7 linked regions of the Homo sapiens genome follow. The protein of the gene in region 3 interacts with the protein of the main gene of each other region in a biochemical or structural test. Each region holds a gene or a part of one and is shown on either strand. Other genes may lie near its edges.

The links.
Region 1: the proteins of KIT (region 3) and FRMPD3 interact in a test that uses a peptide from one of them, tested with the Homo sapiens proteins (one large-scale study listed by IntAct).
Region 2: the proteins of KIT (region 3) and SNTG1 interact in a test that uses a peptide from one of them, tested with the Homo sapiens proteins (one large-scale study listed by IntAct).
Region 4: the proteins of KIT (region 3) and MAGI1 interact in a test that uses a peptide from one of them, tested with the Homo sapiens proteins (one large-scale study listed by IntAct).
Region 5: the proteins of KIT (region 3) and APBA1 interact in a test that uses a peptide from one of them, tested with the Homo sapiens proteins (one large-scale study listed by IntAct).
Region 6: the proteins of KIT (region 3) and TNS1 form a complex in vitro, tested with the Homo sapiens proteins (one large-scale study listed by BioGRID and IntAct).
Region 7: the proteins of KIT (region 3) and RAPGEF6 interact in a test that uses a peptide from one of them, tested with the Homo sapiens proteins (one large-scale study listed by IntAct).

Annotation. Positions count from the first base shown.
Region 1 is NC_000023.11:107,456,152-107,459,651, forward strand, and holds part of FRMPD3 (FERM and PDZ domain-containing protein 3), read left to right. Parts: intron 1-3,500.
Region 2 is NC_000008.11:49,917,907-49,921,406, forward strand, and holds part of SNTG1 (gamma-1-syntrophin), read left to right. Parts: intron 1-3,500. UniProt on the Homo sapiens protein: Adapter protein that binds to and probably organizes the subcellular localization of a variety of proteins. May link various receptors to the actin cytoskeleton and the dystrophin glycoprotein complex.
Region 3 is NC_000004.12:54,727,457-54,730,956, forward strand, and holds part of KIT (mast/stem cell growth factor receptor Kit isoform 1 precursor), read left to right. Parts: coding exon 1-86; intron 87-366; coding exon 367-471; intron 472-554; coding exon 555-665; intron 666-1,878; coding exon 1,879-2,029; intron 2,030-3,500. UniProt on the Homo sapiens protein: Tyrosine-protein kinase that acts as a cell-surface receptor for the cytokine KITLG/SCF and plays an essential role in the regulation of cell survival and proliferation, hematopoiesis, stem cell maintenance, gametogenesis, mast cell development, migration and function, and in melanogenesis.
Region 4 is NC_000003.12:66,028,919-66,032,418, reverse strand, and holds part of MAGI1 (membrane-associated guanylate kinase, WW and PDZ domain-containing protein 1), read left to right. Parts: intron 1-3,500. UniProt on the Homo sapiens protein: Plays a role in coupling actin fibers to cell junctions in endothelial cells, via its interaction with AMOTL2 and CDH5. May regulate acid-induced ASIC3 currents by modulating its expression at the cell surface.
Region 5 is NC_000009.12:69,445,372-69,448,871, forward strand, and holds part of APBA1 (amyloid-beta A4 precursor protein-binding family A member 1), read right to left. Parts: intron 1-3,500. UniProt on the Homo sapiens protein: Putative function in synaptic vesicle exocytosis by binding to Munc18-1, an essential component of the synaptic vesicle exocytotic machinery. May modulate processing of the amyloid-beta precursor protein (APP) and hence formation of APP-beta.
Region 6 is NC_000002.12:217,817,996-217,821,495, reverse strand, and holds part of TNS1 (tensin-1), read left to right. Parts: intron 1-2,736; coding exon 2,737-3,500.
Region 7 is NC_000005.10:131,628,730-131,632,229, reverse strand, and holds part of RAPGEF6 (rap guanine nucleotide exchange factor 6), read left to right. Parts: intron 1-3,500. UniProt on the Homo sapiens protein: Guanine nucleotide exchange factor (GEF) for Rap1A, Rap2A and M-Ras GTPases. Does not interact with cAMP.

The sequences.
Region 1 (3,500 bases), on a different chromosome or scaffold from region 3:
CTCCTGGGCTCAAGTGATCCTCCCACCTTAGCCTCTCGAGTTGCTAGCTAATTTTTAGTGTTTCATAGAGACAGGGTCTTGTTGTGTTGCCTAACCTGGTCTCCAATTCCTGGGCTCAAGCAATCCTCCCACTTCAGCCTCCCAAAGCACTGGGATGACAGGCATGAGCCACTGTGCCCAGCCTGTCTTTACTTTTTCTTATAAATATTTTCAACCTCAAAAAAATTAGAGAAAATAGTATAGTAACCCCCACATACTCATTATCCACATTAACTAGTTATCAGGACTTTGCCATGTTTGCTTCACCTATCATGCCAAACATCGATCACATCATTTTATTCCTAATATTTCTCTATGCATTTCTTAAAAACTGGACATTTTCTAACATAACTACAGAACTGCTAATACACCTAACAAAAGTAACAATAATGCCTTTGTATTATCCATTACCCTGTCCATAATCATATGCCCTCAATTGTCTCAAAACATGTTTTACAGTTGGCTTGTTTGACGGACGTTCCAAAAAAGTTCCACACGTGACATTTGGTTGTTATGTCTCTAAAGGCCCTTTCAACAGCCCTCTCTCTTTGACTTGTCACAGAAATCAGGTTGTTTGCTCTGCACAATTCCCACATTCTGGTTTGTCCTCTTATTGCCAGTTAGCTTGTTCACCTATCCCCTATATTTTCTATAAATGGAAGTTAGCTCTGGGCTTGATTAGATTCAAGCTCATTTTTCTTTTTTTCTCGCTTTGGCATAATGATTAAAACAAGATCATTCTGGAGGCAGGAAGACCAGTTAGCCGGTTGTTACCATAGCTGGTTGGGGACAGAAAGAAGATGGGTGAATGTATTTGGAGGTAGAGGAAACCTGATTTACCTACCAATTGAATGCGTGGGGTGAGGAAGAAGGAAGAGTCAAAGATGATTCTAAGGCTTTGAGCCTGCATAACCAGGAGGGTACCAATGTCATCCTATGAGAAGGATGAGTTTTTAATGAGAGCAGCAGGTATCATGGTTAGATTAAAGGAGGAACTTTCTCACTTTCTCACAGTAAGAGGCCATCTGCTCTGTTTTTTTTTTCCAGATAATACTATCTTTCCCAGAAAAAAATTTGATTCGTGGTATAGCTAAACATTTGATAATGTTTGGAAAACATTTGGAAAGGGACTCCGTATTTTTTGTTAACTGCAAATAGTTAAATTTCCAGCTCCAGGGCCTTGAGAGGGAGGATAGTATATACAATTCTGGATAGAGAGAAGGTAATGCTGATATCTCCCTTGCAGATGAGCCTACTGTCCCATATCATCATGGGTTTCTGAGTCATCAGGCTTGGGTAGGAGAGTGTAGGATGCCAGAACCTGGGATTTCTCTAGACACAGCCAATGAGCATAGCTCAAGATCCATGTCTTTCCTTGATATTGGCTGAAGTCTCTATCCCACACCCACTCTTCCACCCAATATGGAGGCTGTGTGGACCCTCAGTGGACCATGGCAACAGTGTTCTTGCCAAAGTCAAAAATTGCCTAAAAGCCCTGGGATATTCACTGGACTCTGACAAAGCCCCAAGATTATTTCGACACCTCAGTAGGAACTTGCTTAACTCGTTGAATTGGATTAGGTGAGAACTACTCTCAGCTCCATCCCATCATACCCTCCTTCATAAAGGCTTTTCTCTCTCTTCCTTCCCCTAGCTCATCTTTCTTCTTGCTTTTTCTTCTGCTCCCCCCTCCCTGCTCTTTCTCTTCCAGCGTACATTTATTCTCTCAAGTTAATCAAACACTGGCCCCTACAGCCCATTGTGCCTCAGATTGATCACTTAAGTAGCGTTATTGATTGCCCAGAAAACCTTAGGAGGTGGGAGTGTTCTGAAAGCTAGGATCTGACAGCTGATTGGCTGCCTATGTCTCACTCGGCAGCCTCAGCTCCTCTGCCGTCTGGAACATCTTTTGAGAAAGGTGAGGGAATGAACAGCGGAGATCCTTAGCGGGCTTCACTTATCTCATCCTTCCTTCATACTGGAGTTAAGGCATGGGAAGAGAAGTCTATTGACCACTCCAGGATCTAGCCCTGTACTAATGTTATGGTGAGAAGGGGAAAGCAAAGGCCCTGCTCTCTGGAAATCCGTAATTTAACAGAAAAATAATACTCATTCATATGAAGTAACTAAGAATAATACAAGATGGAAAACAATTATGTGCCACATTTTTTTGCTCTAAACAGTAAGCACTGTAGGGGTTCAAAGCACAGAGAGAATGAGAGTGTGGGCTGGAATGAGGGGAGAAGTCTTCCCAGAAGAAGTTGAACCTGCGTTATGTTTTGAGTAACATGTGAGATTGAGATTGTTGACTAGAAAAGGAACAGGCTTCTGAGGGGGAGGCACAGCATAGGGAAAAGGCTGGAGATGGAAATGGTCAGGGTGTTATCAAGAAAGGGTCAGAAAGAAGTCTGACTAGAGGAGAGGGTGTATATGCAGGCACAGTGGGGAAAAAATGATTGGCTGGGTATGGGACTCCCAGATTTGAAGAGTCTCTGATGTCAGAAGAAGTTTGGACTTGGGTAAACCTTGGGGGCTGTCGGACAATTATGCATAGTGATTCAGGATGGTTAGCTATGCAGTTGGAAGCAGAATTGATTGGAATAGGGAGAGACTTGAGACCAGCCTATAAGATACTACAGCAATCTAAGTGAGAGGTGATAAGGGTGGTGGCAGTGGGCATAGAGAGGAGGGTCAAATCCAAAAGGCTCTCAAGGCATCGGTGTGGCTGATAAACCACCAAGTAGATTTTCTTGACTTGTTTTTGTCTCACTCGCTCCTTCCTCTTAGCCTCAATACTTACACTTTCTTTGCCTCATGCCCTCAGGACCTTAAGGTGGCAGAGTTTCTGGAGCTAAGATAACATTGGGCATTATAATCAGTTATCCTTTCCAAGTAAAGTAGATGCGCACAGGGGCCTTCAGTACCATGACCTGAAAGAGTGAGCAATGAGGAATCTGGCTGCAGAATGCAGTTGAGATGATAGCCAAGCTGGGGTGCTGAGTATTACATCCCCCAACAGGGAGGCCGGAGGCAGGCGATGCCTGTGTCTGGTCTGTTTCAAGTCCCCCAAGGCTTCTGAGAGCTGGTAAGAGTGAGGAAACATCTTTCAACTTCCCTGGTAGAATCAGTTTGAAAACTCTTCTGAGCACTTGGGAATCATCTCAGTGAAGGTCACACCTGTGCCAGAGTATGGCAAGAGCTACCACAGCACTTTGATGCCAGCTGGAGCCCTGTTGCAGCTGGTATAAGGAAACTAAGTGAGGAGTCCACAGGTTGATGGGAGAGTCATGGCCAGGGCCTCTGCCTGCTAAATTGCCTCCCCCACCAACTTTCCCCTCCCCACCCAATCCACTGAATATCAGCCCTGGATAGGTGTCTGGGCCAGGTCTGCCAGCCCTGGATTGGAGGGAAATAGAGAACTGCAGATAAAGGGATATTTGTGAGATTTTAGTCTCCTTTTA
Region 2 (3,500 bases), on a different chromosome or scaffold from region 3:
GTGAGAACTGAAAATAGAGAATTTTGTGTGAAATCTACTTTTTGCTTTACCTAATTTCATTGTTAAAATTTTGCATGTAGCGAAACAGACTACATGCTAGATTCCACACATAGCTGCCGAACCTTTTCGTTTCCCATTTCAATGACATTTAATAGAAACCCTAAACTGAGATATTCAGTCAGATTTTTTCCAGACCTTTTTGTTTTTATCTAGAAATGAGACAATGAACCACGACTTGATGAAAAGGTTCATCTTAATATGTTTTTACAATTTTAAAATAAATAAACCTAAAAAATAATGAGTGGCTGAGATAAAATAGATACTTCATGTTTTTGAATGGGCAAAAGTTTTGTGGGGAAAAATTAACTCATAGAACAAATAGGAATGAAGATAGGTCAATAATATTACATAATATGTTTTATTCCAGCATCTTTTCCAGCTACTGTTTTTGCCCCTCATACACATGCAACAGCTACAATAACCCAGATAATAACCTTGATTAACAGTGAGACTAAGAAAAGATTATTAGTTATTGACTAATATCTGCAAATATCCCTTCTTCCCAGAATACAAATTTTCTACTTTTGTGCCTACTCATATGTGTAAAAACAGATAATTTCTTTAGAAAGTTATTTTTTACATTTCATCAGCAAATTATAACACACTCTATAGAATATTCTGTTGGATTTCACAAATTGGAGGCAGATGTCTTATTGTATGTTCGGTGATGTAAGTCCACACACCCACACAACCGCACAAACACAGGGATGGATAAGATTATGCTTTGGTTTGATATATGGCAATTTTTTTTTGTAATTTCTTCTTTTCTAATCCTTGTTAATAGTGACTGTGCCAAAGGGAAAAACAATTCTGCAGTTATTGATGGAAAAAAAGGAGCTTATTTTGCCTAATTGGTATTTGTATATTTTAATTTCTTTTTTTGCTAGAAGTGACAAAATCCCAGCTTAAAGTGGCTTAATCCAAATAAGCAACTAAATAAAAAATATATTTGCAAAAGAGAATTACTGGCTTATGCAGTAGCAGATTATAGCAGGTATGGCTTGATTAAAGTGTTCAAATACTATCCGCATTCTTCAGTGTTGTCTTCATTCCAAAGTACGGTTTGCCTACGTGATAACATTTGCCTCTTTCTCTGTTCTCACTGTCTTTCTCCCTCACTCCTGTCTATGTTTCTGTTTCTGTCTGTCTCTTTTCTCCCCCTCTCTTCTTCATCTCTTTCTCTGTCTTACTCACCTCCTTACCAGTTATAGTTCTACAGTGTTTCCTTCCCAAATCCAGTTCACTTCCTCAATAGTTCCAGTAGATGTACTGGGATTGACCAAGGGAATATTACATATTGGGCTGGATCTTGAAGTAGGATGGGCTTTACAAAACCACACTGATTGAGGGGTATTAGTTATTGACTAATATCTGCAAATATTCCCTCTTCCCAGAACACAAATGACTAGCATAGTGCAGTTTTCAGTGAAAGGGGAGACTACATTAAAGGATAGAAAAGAACAACACTTGTCCTCTACAATGCTAGTGAAGAATCTACCCAAGATTTCTAAGTCACTGAATTTATCTACTGCTGAGGGAATACTCAGCAAAAGTGGGCTCATTGGCTTGTTGTTTCTCTAAAAGCTTTTTTTTCCTAAGGAAAGAATGTCTTAAGATGAAATGTTTGACTTTAAATGTAATTAACATATCAAAGTTTTGTGGGTGTCCTTTTACTATATTATTAACAAATGAATAATATGAAAAGGACACACAAGTGGATTAAAAAATCATTGGGGATAAAAAAATAGTTATTCCAGAACAGTTATTTTTTCTATATTTGGTGACTTTTTTCAGTAGTTTTAAATGATATTTCCTTATTTAACACATGGTGGAGCCTGTTCCAGCTTAGCTAGACTATTTCCCTTTTGTTTTCCTGGTCTGGTTTTAATCTTGAAGAAGTAAAACTCCCGAAAGTAGATTAATCTACTTGTGTACATTTTACACCATTATTATAGATGAGCCAATCAAGAGTAATACAATAGCGCACACTTAGAGTCAAAGTAAGTCAGATTGTGGTAGTTTGTCCAATTCATTAACTTCATAAATTAACTTTATTTTTCTCTTCAAACACATCTTTTTCTCAACTTAAGAATCCTTTTAAGCGATTAGAGAAAACTAAAATATGTCCATTATCTACCTAAGTCATTTGCTTTTATTTTCCATATTGTGTTCTTTTCCAAGAAATCTCCTTGAAGTTGGAACTAGAAGTTTCAGTATAAAGTCTTCATAGGGCATAATAAATGCATTTGGGAAAATGTAACCCTACACTTTAGTTTCCGTTCGTAATACTATTTTCTCACATTCTATGTGTTATACATGATTGTTAGAGTCCTGTTTTAGGGAATCTCATGTGATTCTCACAGCAGGACTAGGAAGCTGACTTTTTCATTCCTGTTTTGCAAATGGGACAATCAAGCTCCAGGAAAGTTAAATGCTTCTCTATAGATTAAGTCAAAATTGAGATTTAGGATCAATATTTAATGCTTTTCTATTCATAAGTGGTTTAGGAAGAAAAACTGCCTCTCTTCTTATAACACCTATTATAGGCTTGACTTGCTTTAGATTGCAGTAAATAAATAAAAAAACAAATAAACAACAACAACAACAACAAACAGAACAGCTGAATTTCATTGACTTTAGTTTTACTAACTAAGTAACTGGAGGCGTTTAGATTCTCAAGAATCTTGAAGGGTTCATGTGTTATCTTGATCTTAATCTTATACAAACAGAGAGGTTTTTGGACAGCATAATCACATGTTGAAAGTCATATTTTACAAGCTTCAGGGAACCATGGTGGACCAGAGTTGATTCTATTGCAGAATTCAGACTTGAGATGATGAGAGCTGGACCTAATTGGGTGAAGGTTAGAAATTAGCCTATTAAAACTAAATGACTAGATGTTAGTGATGCCGCTATCAAATAAAACAAGAATCAGGAGGAGGCCAAATGAGATAGTGTTTTTGTGTACTAGGTAAATGCTCACATATGTAAGTGTGAAATACGCTTCTTTGGAAGGAAAGATGTGATATCTGACATGGGACATGTCAAATGGATAATGAGAGGACATAACAACCAAATGCAGGTGAAGAACCCATTAATTTTAGAAAGAGGGTAAAACCTGACCTATCTAACTCAGAGCTACCGAAGTGGAGATTACTGCTAAAGCTATGAAAATTTATTAGCTATTTGAGAGAATAAAAGAAAAACAATTGTTTACAGACATAAATATCTTTCAAAAGTAAGAAAAAAATAAGAGAAAAGAAGGTCATAAAAGAGTCGTAGAAAGTGTAGGGGAAAGGTATAAAGGAAAATGCATGGAGTTCTAACAAACATACCATGGTTAACAGTGTTGATACTGCACAGAAGTGAAAGGAATGGATGTTTGAGGTTCCTTTGGGTTTGCTCAAAAGCAGATCACAGGGCATCCTGGAGAGAACGAT
Region 3 (3,500 bases):
AAATGGAAACAATTATGTTTACATAGACCCAACACAACTTCCTTATGATCACAAATGGGAGTTTCCCAGAAACAGGCTGAGTTTTGGTCAGTATGAAACAGGGGCTTTCCATGTCACCTTTTTGGGTACACATAACAGTGACTTTAAGGAACTCCAGTGGCTTCCTTTGTTTTGTTCCACCTGAAACAATGAGTTTTCTGTGAAATTGCGCCCCTTTTGATAGGTTTGCCATAGAGAACATCGTAGGAAAATGTCTCTGGACAACATTGTTTTTAATTCCTTTATTGATTTTGAAACTGCACAAATGGTCCTTCAATTCCACCACCAGCACCATCACCACTTACCTTGTTGTCTTCCTTCCTACAGGGAAAACCCTGGGTGCTGGAGCTTTCGGGAAGGTTGTTGAGGCAACTGCTTATGGCTTAATTAAGTCAGATGCGGCCATGACTGTCGCTGTAAAGATGCTCAAGCGTAAGTTCCTGTATGGTACTGCATGCGCTTGACATCAGTTTGCCAGTTGTGCTTTTTGCTAAAATGCATGTTTCCAATTTTAGCGAGTGCCCATTTGACAGAACGGGAAGCCCTCATGTCTGAACTCAAAGTCCTGAGTTACCTTGGTAATCACATGAATATTGTGAATCTACTTGGAGCCTGCACCATTGGAGGTAAAGCCGTGTCCAAGCTGCCTTTTATTGTCTGTCAGGTTATCAAAACATGACATTTTAATATGATTTTGGCAATGCTAGATTATAAACTGCTTGGAAGATTTTTTTACCCAGACTGTTGTTCTCTCTTGCTAGATTTTGTTTTCCTCATTGTTCTTAAGAATGCAGATTTTAATTTTATCATTATGGGGTAGAACAGCCCAGGACATACCCTAGTTATTGTCGTATTTGTAACATCAACGACATCAGCCTCTTGAATATCTCATCCCGACCAGAAGGCTTCTGTTATCTTGTAAGCTTTATACATTTCTTGATCATATGTAGCCACTGAAAGGGTTAATATTAATTTGCATACTACAATTTAAAACAGGCGCCTAAGCCTACTGGTTCTCAAATATACACCAAATGAGGCAAACATTTCACTTCTCTAAAAATAAGTTTCCAATTTGAAGCCTTAGTTGAAGTTCCCATCAAGGATGTCTGTGATGTTTGCAGAAAGTATTTCAGTTGAAAGAAACAAAGATGTGTAAAATGAGCTGTTTCTGGAGATCCACGATAAAGTTGACAGCCTTATATCATGTCTTCCAATAATCCCCATAAATGTTGCTTCACCACATCATGAATTGTTCATGAGAAAATTTCTTACCCAAGTTAATTAGTTGCCTGTTACTTCTAAACTACAGTTTAAACATTCATAGCACCAAAAAATTTTTCAACTAGTAGCGCTCAGAACACAGGTCATTTTAGGTTTTCACTCACTTTCCAGTCTTGTCCCAGCTGGCTGCTCCTTGTGGCTGATTTTCCCACTATGCCACAGTTTGTGCCTTCATTATTTCCATAATAACGTTACAGAGAGTGTGTGAAGCCCTGCTGTAAACAGAAGTGAACCAGAGGATTCACGTAGGAAGCTTGATAATAGTAGAATCTTTGAAAGCAGTAACTTCTCTCTGTAAAACCAGCAGTCATGCTTGGCTCCAAATACTAATGTCACTTAGAAATTCAGGTTAAAAGAGGCTTGCTTGTTTTATGTTACTCCACATAAGGCTGCTTTTTTGATAAGCAGTGTTAATATATGGGATTGTATTGGGACTAAGTAGTCTGATCCACTGAAGCTGAATATTAATGGCCATGACCACCCTTGGGTATTTTTATGGGAGGCAGAATTAATCTATATATCTCACCTTCTTTCTAACCTTTTCTTATGTGCTTTTAGGGCCCACCCTGGTCATTACAGAATATTGTTGCTATGGTGATCTTTTGAATTTTTTGAGAAGAAAACGTGATTCATTTATTTGTTCAAAGCAGGAAGATCATGCAGAAGCTGCACTTTATAAGAATCTTCTGCATTCAAAGGAGTCTTCCTGGTAAGACTGATTTACATAAATAGTTAGCTGTTGACAGGCAGTTCATGGGGTCATAAGGGTTTGCAATCAAGGCTGATTCTTTAAAAAATGAACTGAGGTACTCTGAGGTATGAAATCAAAATTATTAAATCATTTAAATGTGATTAACAGTTTAGAAAGTTAAATTGTGTTTTTAAAGATTCAAACCTAGATTTTTGCTGATTTTTTAAAAATGTATTTTCAGTTTTCTTCTACACTTTAGTTCCATGCAACTGAATGCATTCTATATCTGTTTCTCTTACGGTTCTGTCCTGCATGTATTTCCATTTATACTATTGAGCTTGGTACTACATGCATGTTTCCAGTGAGATACTGTTTATAGGGAAAATGCTAAAGCCTCTCAAGTTGCCACAGTAAAGTCCCTTTAAAACCTTTAGCAGAATGACAAAGAGCTCTGAACATATCTCCACATGTAGGCTTCTTGCCATCGACCTCTGGATTATTCCTGTATACCTTGCCTCTTGCCCTTTTTATTTCATCATGCTATTAAAAGACATAACTACTCCAGCACATTTTTTAAAAATTCTGGACATTATTCTCATCTCTTTCATCATTGATGCCATTCTGAATTTGAATCATGTATAAAGAGCTTTGAGTTTGACTTACAACCAGAAAAGAATTCTTCTCATATCTTGCCTATTCTTTCTTTGGAAATGCTCTTAAGGGCCACCATTTGAGAAGACTTCCTAGATGTACCCAGTCCAACAGAAGTCATGGTTATTTTGCCCAGTCCCCTATACTGTATATTGCTGCAGTTGTGTGGTAGATTTCTCCTATCCTTTTCATGCACTTTATATCCACTGCATCTTGCAATGGCAAGACATTGCCTCCTGAACTCTTAACACCAGGTCCTCAAGGAGACCTCAGTAAATATTATTGATGGGCAATTACCCCTTAAAGCCATTTTCTGTACCTCTGGCTAAAGTTTAAAACCCCAGGTGAAACTTTTTATTTTTTTTTAATCCTATAAACTTGAGTAGTTTAAAGTGGTAGTAGAAACTGTACAAAACCACTTTTTGTTAGTTTCTCCTGGGCATGTGCTCATTATATGAAGAAATGAGCCATTTTGCTTCTTTCCGAAACCTTGGCCCTATATATATCCTTTAACTTTCTGATATAATGGCCTAAATTGTTCAATCCTGTGTGATGTTCTTTGTGCTTTGGGATCCCATATGGGATTGGAACCACCAGCACACTCTGAAGGAGATTGTTGTCATGGTGTTTCTATGCTAATCAGAAGCAGGAAGTACTAGAAATCTTGAAGAGTCTCCAGCCAAATGTTGCAGATTGAAGAGGTCCAGATGGTTCAGAAAATCATCCAAATTATTGGTGTTTATCTGAACCAACTTGATTTTTTTTTAAACCTTCCTCCATCAGTCACTATATGTTAACGATCTCTGCCTCCTGCATAACACGTCTTGGAAGCTCTTCT
Region 4 (3,500 bases), on a different chromosome or scaffold from region 3:
GAAACCCTGTCTCTACTAAAAAAAAAAAAAAAACAAAAAAATTAGCCGGGCGTGGTGGTGGGCGCCTGTAATCCCAGCCACTAGGGAGGCTGAGGCAGAGAATTGCTTGAACCCGGGAGGCTGAGGTTGCAGTGAGCTGAGATCGCGCCACTGCACTCCAGCCTGGGTGACAGAGTGAGACTCATCTCAAAAAAAAGACCCAGCAAATAATAGGTGCTCACTAAAATTGGTTGGATGCCTGAATGACTATTCCATTGTTTCGGAAGGTAAGTGCAACTAGGCCACTTGCAACATCTTTCCTCCCTTTCTCTCGATTTGTCTTTTACTTCTTGTTTAGGATCCAGAGGTCTTCACTTTCTCGTAATCAGATCTTCCAATTAGCAGGCTTTCTGTGTCTAATAATTTATACTGGGCTATAAATGACTGACAAGGATTAATGAATCCTATTCAAGTATTTCTGCCTGTTGACTCTAACTGAAGTTTAACAAGTGAGCCTCTAAACGTGAAATTTCAGATGTTCAGCAGGCAGGATGATGAGGATTTTTTTTGTTGATGTGGGACCTGTGTCCTCATGCCTAAAAATGATTCTTTCCCTCCGTTTTCTTGCAGCATTGTCCCTGTGTACTTTTTTTTTTGGCTAATAGCAAATCAGATCTTTGCTACAGAACACAATCCAATTTTAGCCCTCTCGCTCTTAAATTGTACTTTGTATTTATGTCTTTTTTTTTTTAACTTAAACTTTCAAAAATCAACCTGTTTTTGTTCTTGGTGCCAAAAGACCACTCTTGGAAGGATATTTTTAGGTTACACTGTGGAACACTGTACAGGTTTTACAAAAAATGAAGCAAGGACGTACAACGCACTTGTCCATCGTTTCCAGTGGCCACCCCTTGTCATTGGCTGTGTTATTTAAAAATAGATTAACTTGACCTTCTGTGGCAATGGCATACAGTTGGCTCACCGTGTTTCTTGGCATTCATTACCCAGCTGGTTTTAGATGGCAGAATTGATGATATCCACCAAGGGGAATTAAGTGGTTTATAAGAGAAAACATTCTGACATCTCCTTACCACAAGGGTTTACATGAAGGATGTTGCTTTGTAAACGAGGGTTATTTAATGCAAAGCACCACTCTCTGGTGTTAGTGGCCCTTTCCTTGAGTTTGTATATACAAGTAACAGGATATACTGATTTTGTATACACTGAGAATAAAGGCTGTCAAATTCGTTAAGGGCTGACATTCACATCCTAAAAAAGTAGGTTACTGCATGCCTGCCTGTCTTTTTGCAGCTCATATGTGAGATCTGTAACCTTGAAAAATCCCTAGTACACACTGGTGCATTGCTAGACTTCTCCCCTATGGAGGTCGGCATCGATGTAGTATTTCTTATGAATTCATTTTGTTGTTTCAACAGATGTCAAGGTTGGTCCTATCATATTGACTCTGCTTTCTAGTTAAGTGTCCTGTGGAGGGTCTAATGTGTTCTGGATGTCAACTTTTCCGAAGGCATGTAGCAAAATTAGAAAATGTAATTTGAGCAGTGTCTTTTATGATTAAATAGAAATCTTCTCTTTTTATGGCTCAGTAATTACATAATGGAATAATCCATTATTAATCATTTCTGTAGTCTCTGTATCTGAGTGAAAGCCGAAGTCCTTATAGTGACTTCCAAGGCTGCCCGTGACCTGTCCTAAGGATATTACTTCTCTTTCTCTGTCCTGCCTGCTAGTGCCCACCTGATCATCTTACAGGCTTGCTATCTCTTGAGCTTCAAGTCTTTCTGAAATGTCACCTGCCCAGTGAGGCCTCTTGTGAGCACATTATTGAAAACCATAACTCCACTGCCACGTGTCATTCCCTGTTCCCCCTCTCAGCTTTATTTTACTCCATAGTATGTAGATCGCTTCACCACAAGTAAATTTCTTATTTTACCTCTTTCTCTAGAATGTAAGCTCTGAGATGGCAGGAATGTTGTCTTGTTCTCCCACAGTATCCCCAGTAGCAAAAACAGTGCATGGTGCCTAGTACTTGCTTGGGTATTTGTTAAATGTTTACAGTCAAGTTTAGAACTAGAATAAATCTCTTCTGAGGTCAGTTACCTCTGAAAATGTAGATATATAGAAGTCCCTGAAAATTTAGGTGACTGATGATGGATCACATTAAAGTTGGTTAGAGTTTAACATTTACAGTCAATGGCTGGGGCTAAAATAGAGCTTAGCCGATTGATCCAGGAATATTCTTAAAGTCAGTGAACATTGCTGGCCTGCTTCAGTTGGTCTTAGTATTATGGGTTTACAAGTAAGAACATGTGGGTCCTTGGTTTCTTGTCAAGAAGGGGAGGGAAGAGTCCACTGGAGTCTCCTTGGAGTCAGAGATAAGGTCACATTTCCAATTTTAGGTTTCCCTGCATGGAAGAGGTCCTTGACTTTAAAATTAATTGAGTGTCCTGATTTTCAGAGGTTACTTTGATTTGGGAAATGACGGTAACAAGGGGTACCAGGTGGCTGATCCAAACAGGAGAGCTGAGGCTACTAGAGTCACCATGAAGATCTTGTCGAGTTAGGGATAGGTCTGTGCACAGCATCCCTTACTTAGCCAAGTCATTGGCCTCAGTCCACTTTCAGTCCTGTGTGCTCCCCACCAACATGAATCCCTAGAAGGCAACTCTAGGTCAGGATTTGAATGCACAGGGCTTATCTGGGAGGTGCTCCCAGGAAGTTCCAGTAGGGCAAGGAAGAGGTGAGACCAGTGAGTCAAGAAGGCCAATGGAGATGCTTTAAAGAGCAAGTCACCACTGTGTGTCTAAGGCAGCCCCATGCTGAGTGTGTCATGGAACTTTGCAGACTCTCTCACCCCTAAACAGACTGAGAGGTTCTTCTGGCTGTGTGTATAGACTTTTTCTGTTACCATCTCCAGTGTCATGAAGATGAGTTCCATAAGATAATTACATTCTCATGGCTAAGGTATCAACCCCACCATTACTGTGGATGGAGGCATTTGTGTGTCTGTTTAATGGGCCACAGTTATGCTTCTTACAATAAGGATAATCTTTACTCCTTTATGAGACAAGACTCGAGGCTCTCTTTATGGACAGGGGCATGATGGTGCAATTAAAAGGCGATCGTGCCCTGATTATAAGCCATGTTTCAAAATTACTGCTATATATAGTGTCATCAGGACCGTAGTACTGCTCATAAAATGATCCACAAATAGCAATTTACTGATGTGTCATAGAGTCAGATTTTGGACCCAAGGTTGGCTTGGGTGAAGAGGCAGGCTTTACACTTTATGAGCTGGGTGTTCTGGGGCAAGATGCTGAACCTCTTTGTGCCAGGTTTCCCCCTCGGAAAATGGGGATAATAATGATACCTACTCTCTAGGGTTGTTGGAAAAGTAGAAAGTAAACCACATGACACAGGGCTTGGCACATAGTGAGTGCTCAATAAATGTTGGCTTCTGTAATTGTTTGAATGCTCCCCATTTGAAAGCCCTTGGGAGA
Region 5 (3,500 bases), on a different chromosome or scaffold from region 3:
CTTGGATTTCTGAGCTGCCATTTTATTGGAGGTGCCAATTAAATAAAGGGTCATTTGGTCCCCATGACAACAGTGGAACGGTACAGCAAATTAAGAAATCTGGTGGGAGGGGAAGCCCAGAGAAGAGGGGCGAAGAGAGAAAAGAGAAGCCAGAATGGTCTCTATAGCAACGGGAGAGCAGAACCATGATGCTCCTGGGGAAGCAAGGGAAGCTGTGCGCTATTCTAAAACAGAGCAAAAACCCAGAGGGCAGGACCACAGAGGCAAAGGCACAGAAAGAGGCAGCCTGTAAAATGTTCCACCCACCAATAATTATGCCTTGGGAATTAATTATGACCCAAAAAATAAGGTAGGAAGAGTAAGGCAAGTCAATACCTATAATTCTACTCTAGAAATTGATTTCCTGTAACCTGGGGGGACAATAGTCAACCAGTATTGAAGTGGCCAGATGCAGAATGCACACTTTGGATCCCTGTTCCTGAAAGTGTAGCCTGCAGACTGGTGATGCCATCCCCGCCGCAAAGCCTGCCAAAAATGCAGAATTCCACCCTATACCTGCTGAATCAGACCTGCATTCTAACAAGATCCCCAGGTGATTCCAATCAGTTTGAGAAGCACTGATTCATCAGGATGAGAGTTGCTTGTCAAAGTCACTGCAAAGAGCATGGACATACACTGAAACAAATTTGAACACAGCCTTGAAGTGGTCCAGATGCTGCTCTGCAGTGGCCCGAGGGGTGGGGGTAGGGCAGTGTGCACATCTGTCCAGGTGCAGGCAAAAAGGGGTGTGTTTTCTAGAGAATTTTAAAAAGGTGATACGACCCACTGATGTCAGTCTGTATTTGGTACTGGTGATTCTGGCTGTTATCAGTGGTTACACCTCCCACCAGCCAGGGTGGTCCACGGACGGACCATCACATTTCCCCATTCAACAAGCGGCGCACTGTGGCAGGGAGGAAGTTCAGCTGTGCTCTAATCGGGGTCTGCCCTGCTAAGTACTTCTTCACTATGGGTGGCCACGAAAGCACTGCTTTTCTTTTCTTACTCTTCATCTTCATCAGTTACATCTCTTTTATCACCACTCGGCCTTTTAATTTTCTGGTTCTATAGAGATTACATTTATAGACATCAAAGTTCAGCTCCTCAAACAATCCATTTCCCCTTAGGAAACTGTGCAGACAGAGCTCCGTCTGTACTCCAGCAAGCTTTGCTTCCACCTTGATGCTGTGGCAGCTGCAGAGGGAGTCAGGCTGCCCTCATAGCCTCACTGCTTCCCTCCTCTGGTCCCCACGCAGATAAGGAAGGAGCGATTCGCAGGAGGGTGGGGACTCACTGGCCAGCTGGGGGCCCTGGGCAAGTCTCCTGTGCCTTTAGAGTCTCTGATGGCCCATCTGTGCACCTAGCATCTGCTGTCCCCCTTGTGGGCTGTCCTGAGGAGGAAAGGAGGTGACTCCAGGCCATGAGCTGGAGTCTTAAGGGCCTCAGGAAGCGCGGCTTGTTCCTGCCCAGGCCCCATCCCCACCTTTACTTAAGTCCTCCCCTTGTCTGAGTCTGTTCTTAGTCTGCCATGACAAAGTACCACAGACTAGGTGGCTTATAAACAACAGGCATTTATCCCTCACAGTTCTGGAGGCTGGAAGTCTGAGCTCAGCGTACCAGCACTGTCAGGTTCTGGCAAGAGCCCCTTCTGAGTTGCAGATGGCCAACTTCTAGCATCTTCACATACCAAAAGAGAGCTTGCTGGGGTCCCTTTTTTAAGGGCACTAATCCCAACCATGAGGGCTCCACCCTCCTGCTAATCACTTCCTAAAGGCTCCACCTCCAAATAACATCACATTGGGATTAGGGTTTCAATATGTATTTGGAGGGAACACAAATATTACTCAATACTTTACTTAACCCCCTATCCCCGCTCCTCCTCCCCAACCCTTCTAGACTCAGACCAACTCCCCACAAACCATCCCTAACCAGCTTCCCTCTCTCATCGATTTCTCTCTCTTGCATCTGAACTCCTATGCCGCTCAGGCAGTTTCTCAACCTCAGCACTACCTACATTTGGGGCTGGATAACTCTGTGCTGTGGGGCTGTCCTGTGCATTGTAGGATGTTTGACAGTATCCCTGGCCTCTACCCACTGGATGCTGGCAGCACCTTCTCCTCCGTGACAACCCAAACAGTCTCCATACATTTTGGGGGATGAAGATCACCCCTGGCTGAGAAGTACTGCCCCATGGTCTGGCCTTGGGCCTAGCATTTCACCTGACACCCTCCCTGGGATGACTCTGTATTGGAGGCTGTATGACCACAGACGATTACATCATCTTGCTGTGCCTCAGCTTCCTAGCTTGTACAATGGGTACAAAATAGTACCTGCCCACAGAATGCTGCCCCGAAGGCTCAGCAAGTCAGTCCACACATATTCTCAGAGCATCCAGAGCACAGACACACAGCACTGAGCACTGTGAGCCATAAGTCCTTTCACTTCTCCTCAAACCGACCAAGCTCCCTGGGGGGCAGGGACTGTGTCCACGGGGCCCCTGGGTCCCACAGCCCCTCAGCAGTTCTCATGCATGCACCCAAGGTGTTTAATAAGCAACTTGCTCACTGGCAGGAGCGACTTGTGGTCCTGCCTCCCTAGCCCCACCCCCCCGCTTGCCTCTCCATGCAATCACAGCAACACCAGACCAGCCGTTCCGGGCCAGGCTCAGACCCCATCTCTCCCTGACTCAACACCGGCCCCTGTCCATCAATTCAAGCAGAAACTTCCAAACGCCACTTCCCTTTCTGCTACCTACCTAGGTTTTATTCCTTCAAGGTCAACTTTAAAATCACATAAAATTGTCCATCTAATCACTTGTAGCCTCTCACCTTTATGTTGGCCGCAGAGCCCTTGCACGTCTCTAATTATCCTGCACATGCACACTGGCAAGCCAGCTTCCTCAGAGCGCAGCTCAGTGCCTCACAGAGGCCCAATTAAACCTTTCTGAATGAATATCCATGTTCAAAGTTGATTCTCTAATCTTACCTTTAACGTGTATTAAGCAAGAGGTAGAATTTATTTAAGTATAAGATATAAGAAAAAGAAATTAAAGGAGGCCAAAGAGGACTATTTCTTTCCAGATGTGATTATCTTATGTGAAATTAGAATTTACTCCATTTCATTAAAAACAAAAAGTCACCATCCATGTGTCCTATACACTCACCTTCACCTCCCACCCCCACCCCCTTAGCTGAGGAGGCTGGCTTTGTGATTTTTCTTTTGCTCACAATGACTATTTGCACGAATTAATCCCCTTCCTTCTCCCTCTCTCTCACACATGCACATACGCACACAGCTATGTTCCAGCTAAGTCTTTCAGGAAACCCCTACAGGACCCCAAAAAACGCTGTGGAATCTCAGTCTAGCTACAGTACCGCAGCACTTGGTGCAGAGCTACTGGGGTCTACAGATGCCATCATGGAGGAGGAACATCCTGGTCACACTGGCCATGCATTCAGCAA
Region 6 (3,500 bases), on a different chromosome or scaffold from region 3:
GTGCTGGAAGGAGTGAAGGGTACCACGGTGAATGTGGCAAAGTCCTTCCCCAAGTTGAAAATCTACCAACAGTAATGACTTATGTAGTGGGCTCATCCTAGGTACCTGGCACTTTGCTAAGTGCTTTATGCAGTTATTTAATCCTCGCAGCAATCCTAGGAGGTGAGCACTATTATTGTTCCCACTTTTCAGAAGAGGAACCTGAGGCATAAAGGTGCCACAGCTAAGCAGTGGCAGAAATCAGATTCAGGTGGAAGCGTGTGATTCCAGAGCCCGCATCTCTATCCTCTGCCCCAGACCTGCATCATGGCGCCCTCCCTGCACAGGATGAGAGTCAGATGGGCCCAAAGCCCACACATGAGTGAAGGGCTTGGAGCTCAGAACAAGGGGCCATTATTTCTGGCTAGGGATGCAGCGAGGATTTCTGAGGGCTGGAGGCATTTGTGAAGGGTGTAGAGGAAGTAGCAGGATGTTGAAAGATGAAGAAAGAGAGACAGGGCATTCCAGAAGGACAGCCCAGCAGGGACAGAGGACTGGGCTGTGGCCATGTTGGGAGTGTGAGGCTGAGGGCATGTGGCCTGCCATTAGGGGATGCCTGGGTGGATGGATGGCTGGCATCCATATTTCTGAGTGCATCACACAGAGATGAAAGCCCAGAGGTGGGTGACAGTCCCTGCTGACAGGCTTAGTGGAGGGGTGCAGCAAGGAGCTGCTTGACTGGGGTAGTGGGGGTGAAGGTGGAGGGGACAAAGAGATGGGATGACGGCATAGGAAAGGAGGGTTGCAATCAGCTCAGGCAAGGCATCGAGTGCCAGGCAAAGGAGGAGGACCTAGGAGGTGTCGCCCCCAGGAGGGGAGACTCTGCCCTGACCATCCCTTCTTCGCCGTGCCCACTGCCCTCCCTAGCCTGGGATGTCACAGAGCCTGCAAATTCCCCTGCCAGGCCCAGTGGGTCCAGTTTGCTGCACAGTCTACATTGGCTCAATGCTGAGCCTCCCCTGCAAGTGGGGGCACCATGGGATGACTAGGGGAGCAGATGAGCAGAGGCAACTGTCTTCTGGATTCTAAGCCAAGCATTCCCCTTCCCCAGCCTCTTAACAGGCAGCAGCCTGCGTTGCTCAGGAGGCCTGACTCTGGCCGAGGGTTGCATTTCCTATTTTAAAGGAAAGGGGATTTTCCTAAGTTGTCCCAGCCACCCATTGTTGATGTTCAGTGAGCCCTGGCATTAGGAAGTTGTTCATTGTTTCTCACTCAAATCCCTCCTGCTGAAGTGTTGGCCCTTTCCAGGAAGCTAGCCTTTCTCCCCTGGGATTAGCCTTCCAGAACTCCATTTTAGTGTCTCCTTCTCTCACCCTGCTCAGCCTGGCTCTGTCTCCCACTCCTCAGAATCCAGTTTATTCTGGATTATACCAGGAGGTGGCCTTCTGCTTTGGCCCCTTCTGGGATGCAAGGTAGACTTTGCCCTAGCCTGGCCCCTGACCTTCTCCTTGCCCTTGGCTCTTGCCTGGCCCAAGAGCACACCCCCAACCAAAACCTCATATCACCCCGTGAACCTGAGCTTATCCAGCCTGGCCCAGGGAGGGCCAGCCCACAACAAGATCCTTCCAGCCTGCAGCTCCAGGTTTTGGCCCATTGGCTAAGTAAGGACCTCTCCCCATGGGGGGTTCCTGGTGCACAGCCTGCCTGCTCCCTCCCTACATACTAGTTTATGTAAGGCCCCTGTCAACCTTTGTTTCTCTCACCATAGTTGGATAGAAATTTGGGTCTAGAAGGAGTCAGGGTCACCTAATCCAGTCCTGTCATTTTCCACATGGAAAAACTTTAATAAGCAAAAAAACTCACTGGCCATCACATTGTACTGCTGTGCTTTCATCTGTCACTCCATGCAGACCTAGACTTAACTTTACAAGGGAACCTTTGACTGTGGCAATTACCCCAGGTATAGTCTCCTCTGAACTGAGTTGTTTCAGAGTCAGAATTGGTAGTGACCTCTGAGCTCATCTCATCTAACCTCCCAATGCAGGAAATTCCCTCTACAGCATTCAGGCCAATAGGTCTGTCAGCCTCTGCTTAAATGCTCCTAATGACAGGAGCCTCATTACCATGCAAGACAGCTTTCTCCATTGGTGGCCACATCCCCAGTGGCTGGAGAGCAGACCTTACAATGACCTCAAATCCCCTGATGTGAAACCTTCCCCTGTGATTCCTTGTCTTTGCTTTTTTGGAGCCATCTAGGAGTGAAAGCCCAATTCTAGCACTCTCTGTCAATGTTTAAGGATGATGATATCACACTTGAGGAAACTGAGTCAAGACAGGGCTACTCCCAGTAGGAACAGGAGCCAGGAAACTCCATTAGGAATTTCTGTGATGCTGGAGGCTATAACATGACAGCCACCTCCAGTTTCGATAGGAGAGGGCTCTTCACTTTGACATGGCTCAGGAGTGAGCATGGTGCAGTGGGGAAGACGTGGGCTTTGGAATCAGACACAGCTAAGTTGAAACCCTGGTCTTTTATAAGCAGTGTGGTACTAAGCCTACTGCTTAACCTCCCTGAGCCTCAGTTTCTTCTTCTGATGGTTCTGTAAGGTAACGTATAAAACCCTGATGTCCTTCCGCACTGCCAGTGGGACCATTCTTACTGTTGTTCATGGTTGGAGGGAGGGCAGACAGCCTGCTGTAAATCCACCCTTCATTCAGTTCTGTCCACTGACATCGCAACCTGCCATCTCTCTGCAGCACTTCAGTGGGGAGTTTCCCGTCGGGAGAGAGCAGTGACCAGGGTCCCCGGACGCCCACCCAGCCTCTGTTGGAGTCTGGCTTCCGCTCAGGCAGCCTGGGACAGCCCAGCCCGTCTGCCCAGAGAAACTACCAGAGCTCTTCTCCTCTCCCGACTGTGGGCAGTAGCTACAGCAGCCCCGACTACTCACTTCAGCATTTCAGCTCCTCTCCGGAAAGCCAGGCTCGAGCTCAGTTCAGTGTGGCTGGCGTCCACACGGTGCCTGGGAGCCCTCAGGCGCGCCACAGAACAGTGGGCACCAACACTCCCCCTAGTCCTGGCTTCGGCTGGCGGGCCATCAATCCCAGCATGGCTGCCCCCAGCAGTCCCAGTTTGAGCCATCACCAGATGATGGGTCCACCAGGCACTGGCTTCCATGGTAGCACTGTCTCCAGCCCCCAGAGCAGTGCAGCGACCACCCCGGGGAGCCCCAGCCTGTGTCGGCACCCAGCAGGGGTCTACCAGGTTTCTGGCCTCCACAACAAAGTGGCCACCACCCCGGGGAGTCCCAGCCTGGGCCGGCACCCTGGGGCTCACCAAGGCAACCTGGCCTCCGGTCTTCATAGCAATGCAATAGCCAGCCCTGGAAGCCCCAGCCTGGGCCGTCACCTCGGAGGGTCTGGATCTGTGGTTCCCGGCAGCCCCTGCTTGGACCGGCATGTGGCCTATGGTGGCTATTCTACCCCGGAGGATCGGAGACCCACACTGTCCCGGCAGAGCAGTG
Region 7 (3,500 bases), on a different chromosome or scaffold from region 3:
TGTGAGAGTAGTAAGAGATGAAGGAGGAGTGGAGATAATGATGCATAGCATAGGGCACATCCTATTTGACTTTTCAGTGAGGGGGAGCACTGAAAGATTTTGAAGCAGAGGAGTGATATTGACCTACTTAACCTTTTTTTTTTTTTTTTTTTTTGAGACAGAGTCTTGCTCTGTCACCCAGGCTGGAGTGCAGTGGTGCAGTCTGGGCTCACTGCAATCTCTGCCACCTGAGATCAAGCGATTCTCCTGCCTCAGCCTCCTGAGTAGCTGGGACTACAGGTGTGTGCCAACACGCCCGGCTAATTTTTTGTGTTTTTAGTAGAGATGGGGTTTCACCGTGTTAGCCAGGATGGCCTCAATCTCTTGTCCTCGTGATCTGCCCGCCTTGGCCTCCCAAAGTGCTGGGATTACAGGCGTGAGCCACCACGCCTGGCCTACCTTTTTGTTTTTAAAGAGGGTCTCACTATATTGCCCAGTCTGGTCACTAATTTCTGGGCTCAACAGATTCTCCTGCTTCAACCTCCCAAGTAGCTGGAACTACAGGCATGTGCCACTACACCTGACTACCTTACTGGGTAGTCTCCTGGCTGCTGTGTTGAGAATAGACTGTAGGTGTTTAAGGGCAAAAGCAGGAGGTTAACGGCTGTTATTGCATAAAATCAGGTTAGAGATGATGGTCACTCTGACTAAAGTGATAGTGATAGTAATGGAAGTGGTGAGAAGTGGTTAAGTTTTAGAAATATTTTGTAGGGTTAGCCAACAGGATTTGCTAATAGATCAGATGTGGACCTTGAGGAAAAGAGAAGAATCAAGCATGACTTCAAGGTTTTTGGCCTAAATAACTGGAGTGTTGGAGTTATTGTCAGAGAGGTTTGAGCTGCCATCAGCGAGATGGGAAAAGCTGCAGGAGGAGTAGGTTTTAGGGGCAAGATCAGAAATTCAGTTTTGAACATGTCAAGTTTGAAATGTCTGTTAGAAATGAGTAAGAGGTTGCATATACAAATTTGTATTACTAAGAAGCCTGAGCTGGAGATAACAATTTTATAGTCATCAGTTTATAGATATTGAAAGTCATGAGACTGGGTAAAATTACCAAGTAGTGAGTGTACGTAGAGAATAGAAGAGGACCAAGGACAGTGAGTACCATGGGACATGAGATCAGTATAAGGTCGGGGAGAAGAGTAGAAATCAGCAAAGGAGAATGAGTGGAAGCAAACAGTGCAGTAGGAGAAAAACCGAGAGAGTGGTGGTGCCCTAGAAGCCAAATTAATAAGCTGTAAAATAGAAGGGGATAAAATTATTTGTTTGGCTTATTTTTCCTTGAATACCTACTGGGTGCAAAGCGTTGTGAAAAATATACAAAGGGATGAGAATTAGTATGTTGAAATCATTTGTTTGCATCGTGTAATTGATGAGTAAATAATGAGTAAAGAACTCCTTGTGTTTCTGGGACAAAATGAATGGTTCCTTTATTTTGAACCATCTGTCGTCCTTAGGTGAAACTATCAACTCAGGCATAATCCTAGTGAGCCAGACATCAAGTACAGACACATGTTGTAAAGTGTGCCATTTAGATATCTTTCTAACACAGTGTGTGTGTGAGAGATTTCTCCTACTTATAGATTCAGCTTCCACAGAACATTGTCTTTCCTGAGCTAGTTCTTTCTCAATTTGCAAAGATATTCTTATGGAAAATTTCAGACTTAAATACTCCATGGACAATTAAGTGCACTAAAACAACAAAAACTGTTAAGGTACAGACATACCTCCCAGATACTGCAGGTTTGGTTCCAGACTACTGCAGTAAAGCCAATATCCCAATAAAGTGAGTCACGTGAATTTTATTTCCTAGTGCACATAAAAGTTGTTTACACATATAGTAGTTTATTGTGTGTGATAGCCTTATGTCTAAAAAAAGATATATGCCTTAATTTAAAAATACTTTATTGCTAAAAAATACTAACCAGTCATCTGAGCCTTCAGCTAGTTGTCATCTTTTAGCTGGTGGAGGGTCTTGCCTTAGTGTTGATAGCTGCTGCTGACCAATCAGGGTGGTAGTTGCCGAAGATTGGGGTGGCTGTGACAGTTTCTTAAAATAAGACAATGAAGTTTGCCACATCAATTGACTTTCTTTCATGAAAGATTTCTCTTTAGCATGTGATGCTGTTTGATAGCATTTTACCTACAGTAACTTCTTTCAAAATTGGTGTCAGTCCTCCCAAATTCTGCTGCTGCTTTATCAACTAAGCTTAAGCTTATGTGGTATTCTAAATTCTTTGTTGTCATTTGAACAATATGTACATCATCTTCACCAGGAGCAGGTTGTCTCAAGAAACCACTTTTTTTACTAATGCATAAGAGGCAGCTTCTCATCTACTCAAGTTTTATCATGAGATTGCAGCAATTTAGTCACACCTTCAGGCTCCATCTTCATTTCTTTTTTTTTTCTTTCCTTTTTTTTTTTTTTCTTTTTCTTTGAGACAAGATCTCATTCTGTTGCCCAGGTTGGAGTGCAGTGGCGTAATCACAGCCCACTGCAGCCTCTACTTCCCAGGCTCAAGTGACCCCACCTCAGCCTCCTGAGTAGCTGGTACTACAGGTGCATGCCATCATGCGTGGCTGATTTTTTTTTTTTTTTTGTAGAGACGAGGCCTTGCTATGTTGCCCAGGTTGATCTTGAACTCCTGGGCCCAAGCAATCCTCCCACCTTAGCCTCCCAAAGTGCTGGGAGCCAGCCCAGGCTCTATTTCTAATTCTAGTTCTCTTGCTATTTCTACCACACATGCAGTTGCTTCCTTCACTGAAGTGTTGTACCCTTCAAAGTCATTCATAAAGGTTGGATTCAACCTCTTTCAAACTCCTGTTAGTGTTGATATTTTGACCTCCTCCCATGCTTCACAATTTTTTTTTTCTTTTAAGTGATAGTCTCAATACATTGCCTGGACTGGTCTTGAACTCCTAGGCTCAAGTGATCCTCCCACCTCAGCCTCCCAAAGTGTTGGGATTACAGGCGTGAGTCACCATGCCTGGCCCACAGATGGTTTTAATGGCATCTGGAATGATGAATCATTTCAAGACAGTTTTCAATTTTCTTTTCACAGATCTGTTAGGGAATCACTGTCTATGTCAGCTGTAGCTTTATGAAATGTGTTTCTTAAATAACAAGACTTGAAGGTTGAAACTTTTCCTTGATCCATGGGCCACAGAATGGATGTTGTATTAGCAGGCCTGAAAAAAATCACTAATCTCCTTGTGTACCTCCATCTGAGCTCTTGAGTGACAAGATGCATTGTCAGTGAGTAGTAGTATTTTGAAATGAATCTTTTTTTCTGAGCAGTGGGTCTCATCAGTGGACTTAAAATATTCATTAACCCATACTGTAAACAAACGTGCTGTCATTTAGGCTTTGTTGTTTATTTACTGAGCACAGGCAGAATAGATTTAACATAATTCTTAAGGGCCTTAGGGTTTTCAGAATGGTAAATGATCATTGGCTTCAA